Regions from separate parts of the Homo sapiens genome. Here region 2 is linked to region 1. The links come from fine-mapping of genetic effects on gene expression. A gene starts in region 1. The other region holds a variant in brackets. All regions are shown on one strand. Distances are from middle to middle.

Region 1 (2,500 bases):
TGGCCTCACTTCTTTGGTAAATATTCCTTGACCATACACAGTCCTGAGCCCTCTGAGGGTGGGAGGCTGGGGAAACAGAGAAAAATGAGATCATGGTCTAGTGAGAGAGACAGACAAGCACCAAGTCATAACTGTGCAGGGTCATATATGCAGAGATGGGGGAAGTACAGGGCTGTGGGGACCAAGGAGTGAGGGGCTGCCCAGGGCCAGTCAGGGAGGCCAAGCCCTAGCTCAGCCCAGAGCAGGGCCCAAACAAAAGCCCAGGCTGAGAGCACATGGCCCAGCCAGACTCCCACTCCCAGGAGGCCACCAGTTGGGTGCAAAGTGCATGGCGCATTGGCAGGCCTGGGTCCCAGACCTGGTGCTGCCACGGCACAGCAGGGAGGGTGACCTTGGACAACTCCCATTCCCTCTCAGGTCCGTTTCCCCACCTGTACAGTTCGAGGTGGAGGAACAAAGGGTCTGTGCAGCCATGGCCCCTGGGGATCCCCCACTGCTCCCCTGCCATCATCTCTTTCCCACAGAACTTCCCGACGGAGGAGCTGACTACCAGAAGCCCCCAGTGGGTGTTAAATCACAAGCTACGCCTGGGAATGGGCCACTCCTCCTGTCTTCTGCCCTCTCCCACTCTCCAGGGCCCAGTACCTGCCCTTCTCACCATCTTTCATCAGGTCCCCATCACAGCCCGGTCCCAACCAGGACAAAGACCCTACCCATCCCTTTCTCACCTCCCCCATTCTTTGCCCAGACCCCTCCCTAGGCCTTGATCCTGCCCCGCCTCTAACCCCCAGATTCCAAGCGAGGAGTCTCAGCCCCTCCCCCACGACCCAGTCCCTGGCCCCCGCGCCTGCACCCCACCCCGCGCGCGTCTATCCCTGCCTGGCCGGGCTCTCACCGCGCCGCAGCTGCAGACGCAACGTCCCCAGCGCGAGGCCCCGGGCCCCCCAGCAGCCGCCGCGCCGTCACAGAGATGCTGCACAGCCGCGGAGCCATGTTGGAGCCGCAAAGGTTGCAGGAAGGCCCCGCCCCCAAGCCCTGGTGGCGGAGGCGGGGCGCGAATAAACTCCACCCCTCCGGCTCGCCCGCCCCCTCACTCACCCGGTCAGGTGGGCGTTTCCTGTGGGCGTCTCCAACTCCGCAGGTGCTGGACGGAAGTCAGGGTTCTAATCCTCTGCGCGCTCTGCGACCTTGGCAAGCCCTTTGCCCACTCTGGGCCTCAGGATCCACCTCGGTAAAATGGGAGCGTGGAACAATAATACCAAGGGTTCTTTTTTTTTTTTTTTTTTTTTTTGAGACGGAGTCTCGCTCTGTCGCCCAGGCTGGAGCGCAGTGGCGCGATCTCGGCCCACTGCAAGCTCCGCCTCCTGGGTTCACGCCATTCTCCTGCCTCAGCCTCCCGAGTAGCTGGAACTACAGGCGTCTGCCACCACGCCCAGCTAATTTTTTGTATTTTTAGTAGAAACGGGGTTTCACCGTGTTAGCCAGGATGGTCTCGATCTCCTGACCTCGTGATCTGCCTGCCTCGTGCTCCCAAAGTGCTGGGATTACAGGCGTGAGCCACCATGCCCAGCCTACCAAGGGTTCTTAACAAGGCTGTCCGGGATGTGCAGCAGAGGGTCAGTGTAACCACCCCATGGGTTCATTTTGCCCGTTTCCCAGACAGCGGATTTATCAAGACAGAGGAATTGCAATAAGAGTTTAATTCATGCAGAGCCGGCTGAATGGGAGACCGGAGTTTTATTATTACTCAAATCAGTCTCCCTGAAAATTCGGAGACTGGGTTTTATTAAGGATAATTTGGTGGGTAGGGGCCAGAGAGTGGAGAGTGCTGATTGGTCAGGTCGGAGATGCAATCATAGGGAGTGGAAGCCGTCCTCTTGTGCTGAGTGGATCTCTGGGTGGGGGCCACAAAACCGGATGATCCGGTTTCTTAATCTGTGTATCGCCAGCGGATCCATTGAGTGCAGGATCGGAAAAATATCTTGAGCACCAATCTTAGGTTTTACAGTAGTGATGTTATCCCTAGGAGCAACTGGGGAGGTTTAGAATCTGTGGCCACTACCTGCATGACTCCTAAACCGTAATTTCTAATCTCGTGGCTAATTTGTTAGTCTTACAAAAGCAGTCTGGTCCCCAGGCAAGAAAGGGGTTTATTTTGGGAGAGGGCTGTTATCTTTGTTTCAAAGTTGAACTATAAATTTGCTGCCGGGCATGGTGGCTCATGCCTGTAATCCCAGCATTTTGGGAGGCAAAGGTGGATCAGAAGTTTAGGTCAAGAGTTCAAGACCAGCCTGGCCAACAGGGTGAAACCCCGTCTCTACTAAAAATACAAAAAAATTAGCCAGGCATGGTGGCGGGCACCTGTAATCCCAGTTACTCGGGAGGCTGAGGCAGGAGAATCTCTTGAACCCTGGAGGCAGAGGTTGCAGTGAGCCGAGATCGCGCCACTGCACTCCAGCCTGGGCAACAAGAGCGAAACTCCGTCTCAAAAAACAAACAA
Region 2 (3,022 bases), 150 kb before region 1:
CAGATGTGCGCCACCAAGCCCAGCTAATTTTTTTTGTATTTTTAGTAGAGATGGGGTTTCACCATGTTGGTCAGGCTGGTCTTGAACTCCTGACCTCGTGATCTACCCACCTCGGCCTCCCAAAGTGCTGGGATTACAGGCATGAACCACCACACCTGGCCAAAGTTCTTAATAAGATAACTTACATTCTCTTTTTCTCATACCTCTTCAAAATCCAGTGCGCATTTTACACTGAAGGTGTGATACGCTAACTTACATTAACTTGATTGACTCTCTCTTAGCTAAGAAAGCTGGATGGATTCCATTCGGCTCCTTCATTTGCAAGACATTAAGGGCTCCTTACCCACTCCCTCCCTCAAGGACTTAACTTGTGCAAGCTGACTCTCAGCGCGTCAAAGAGTGCAATTAACTGATAAGATACTGTGGCAAACTATGTCCACAGTTCCCAGGAATTTGCTCAGGTGACAGTACTCTAAAGCCCCCTGCATTTGTGTCTGGAGCCCCCCTCCTATCACCCTGTGATGAATTTAAAGCCCCTGCACCTGGAACTGTTTGTTTTCCTGTAACCATTTGTCTTTTCAACTTTTTTGCCTGTTTTACTTCTGTAAGATTGCTTCAGCTCAATTCCCCCTCCCCTTTCTAAACCAAAGTATAAAAGAAAATCTAGCCCCTTCTTCAGGGCCGAGAGAATTCCGAGCGTTAGCGTCTCTCGGTCGCCGGCTAATAAAGGACTCCTGAATTAGTCTCAAAGTGTGGCGTTTCTCTATAACTCGCTTGGTTACAACAAAGGCACATCCCAATTCCAATAAGCCCCATTTGGGGTGCTCAAGAACCACATGTGGCTGGACCGCTGGGCCTAGACCCTTCACAACACCAGCTTCTCAACTGAAGAATCATGTCCTTCATTCCAACTAGCATTTCCGATATTAGAAGTTCAAGGCCATGACTCTTCTTATATGTATTTTATAGTGTTTTTATCACCTATCACTAGTGATTGTTTATAGCAGGCACTGATATGTCTCTATGCATGTAAAAGTGAAAGAGCCTAAAGGAGTATTGTCATTCAGTTAATTGAACTCCAATATCATGTACCGTTTCTGCAGACATTGGCCATGGCAGAACATTTTAAAGAAGCAAGTCGATGTGTCGGCTGCCTATCTTATCCTGAAAAACCCACTTACTAGCCAGGCACATTGGCTCACGCCTGTAATCCCAGCACTTTGGGAGTCTGAGGTGGGTGGATCTCGAGGTCAGGAGTTAAAGACCAGCATGGCCAAGATGGTGAAACCCCGTCTCTTCTAAAAATACAAAAATTAGCCGGGTGCTGTGGCAGTGCCTGTAATCCCAGCTACTCATGAGGCTGAGGCAGGAGAATCACTTGAACCCAGGGGCAAAGGCTGCAGTGAGCCAAGATGGCACCACAGCACTCCAGCCTGGGCAGCAGAGCAAGACTCCGTCTCAAAAAAAAAAAAAAGGAAAAGAAAAAAGAAAATAATAAAAACCCACATACCTAGAGTGTGGATATCTCTGCTGCTTCCGCTGTATCAGTTCATTTCCAAAGGAGCCCAATGGGGATGATGTATTGTGCGCCATCTGCTCTGTGGTCACTATAAAAGACATCACGCCCCATCTCCTGCTGGGAAAACTGGTTTCCAAAATCAAGGAAGTGGAGCCCCAGCTGAGAAGAATTCTATATTAAAACCCAAGGATGCGGAAGTTTCAAGGTCAGAAATCTGTATAACCTGCGCTCGGCCCACCAACAGCCTTGGAAAAAGCAACTGTTCAAAAGGCT[C/G]TCCATTAAATAGGGGCATTAGCTGAATTCTGGCACCTAAAATGTGTATGCCCACCCAACAACAGTTCTCAGCTGTGAGTATAGATTAGAGACAACAGAAGATTTTGAAGAAAATATAACATTTAAGTCATACCCTAGACCTGTGCTGCCCAATATGGTAGCCACCAGTGGCTATGGGGCCCTTGAAACATGGGTGTACCCCATGTGGAAGTGACAATAATTCTGGATATACAAGCTTATAATATGTTATTTAAAGTATTGTTGAATTTTTTTTAATGTCTACAGAAAAATTTAAAATTACCTGGAGATCTTTTATAAAATGCAAATTCTCCTTCTATTGGACTAGGCTGGTTGAGAATCTGGATTTCTGACACACACTCACACACACACACACACACATACACACAAATTTTTTTGAGATGTGGTTTCATGTTGCCCAGATTGGTCTCAAATTCCTCAGCTCAAGCGATCCTCCCACCTCAATCTCCCAAATTGCTGGTATTACTGACATAAGCCGCCGTACACAGCCTGATCTAATAGTATAATAAATAGTTTTTCCATCATCTAGATATTCATTAGATATCTATATTTGAACAGAGTCTGCTAAATTTTATGATTTTGAGAGTAAACAACAGACATGGTTTCTGCCTTCATGGATCTCAAGAAATCTTGAATAATCAAAATGTAAAAAGAATGCTTACTATGAACAAGAGGGATTTGTTACAATTCTATTTCAATCTTCTCTAAGAAATTCTACGGAATCAGGGAATGCAGGGAAGTTTCTATTTGCTGATTTACCTTTTTTCTTTCCACAGTGGATATGACGTCAGATATTGACACAGCCAACAATCGACTCATCATTTCTGAAGACCTGTGGAGTGTCCATTGTGGATTTCTTAGAACCGCACAGAGTATGCCGAGATTCAAACAAGTCATCTGTGTCCTGGGCTCCCCTCGCTTCACCTCTGGACACCATTACTGGGAGGTAGACATGGGGACAGGCAAATAATGGGATTTGGGTGCCTGCAAAGAATCTGTTAATCGACAAGAGAATTGTGTGGTCTTCAGAACTTGGCTTCTGGACTGTGGGTATGAGGAAAGAAAAGCTCTTTGCAGCCAGCACTGTGCCTTTAACCACCCTCTGGGTGAGTCCGGGGCTATGCAGGGTAGGCATTTTCCTGGATATGGGTATGACAATGATTTCCTTTTATAACATTAATGATGGGACTC

What was found. PIP is the estimated chance that this variant, and not a neighbour inherited with it, causes the effect.
Region 2: its variant is fine-mapped to the expression of NIPSNAP1 in whole blood (TOPMed, PIP above 0.99).

The regions. Positions count from the first base shown.
Region 1 is chr22:29,580,090-29,582,589 of GRCh38, forward strand. It overlaps NIPSNAP1 (nipsnap homolog 1), which reads right to left and starts at 1,024. Exons shown (of 10, transcript NM_003634.4): 1 at 896-1,024. The coding sequence starts at 993. RefSeq lists an enhancer at 185-797 and a silencer at 781-830.
Region 2 is chr22:29,431,831-29,434,852 of GRCh38, forward strand. It overlaps a transcript of RFPL1 not described here and the pseudogene RFPL4AP6. Among named protein-coding and RNA genes, the nearest start is that of RFPL1, 5.2 kb to the right of the region's middle. The variant C/G (reference allele first, on the strand shown) is at 1,793.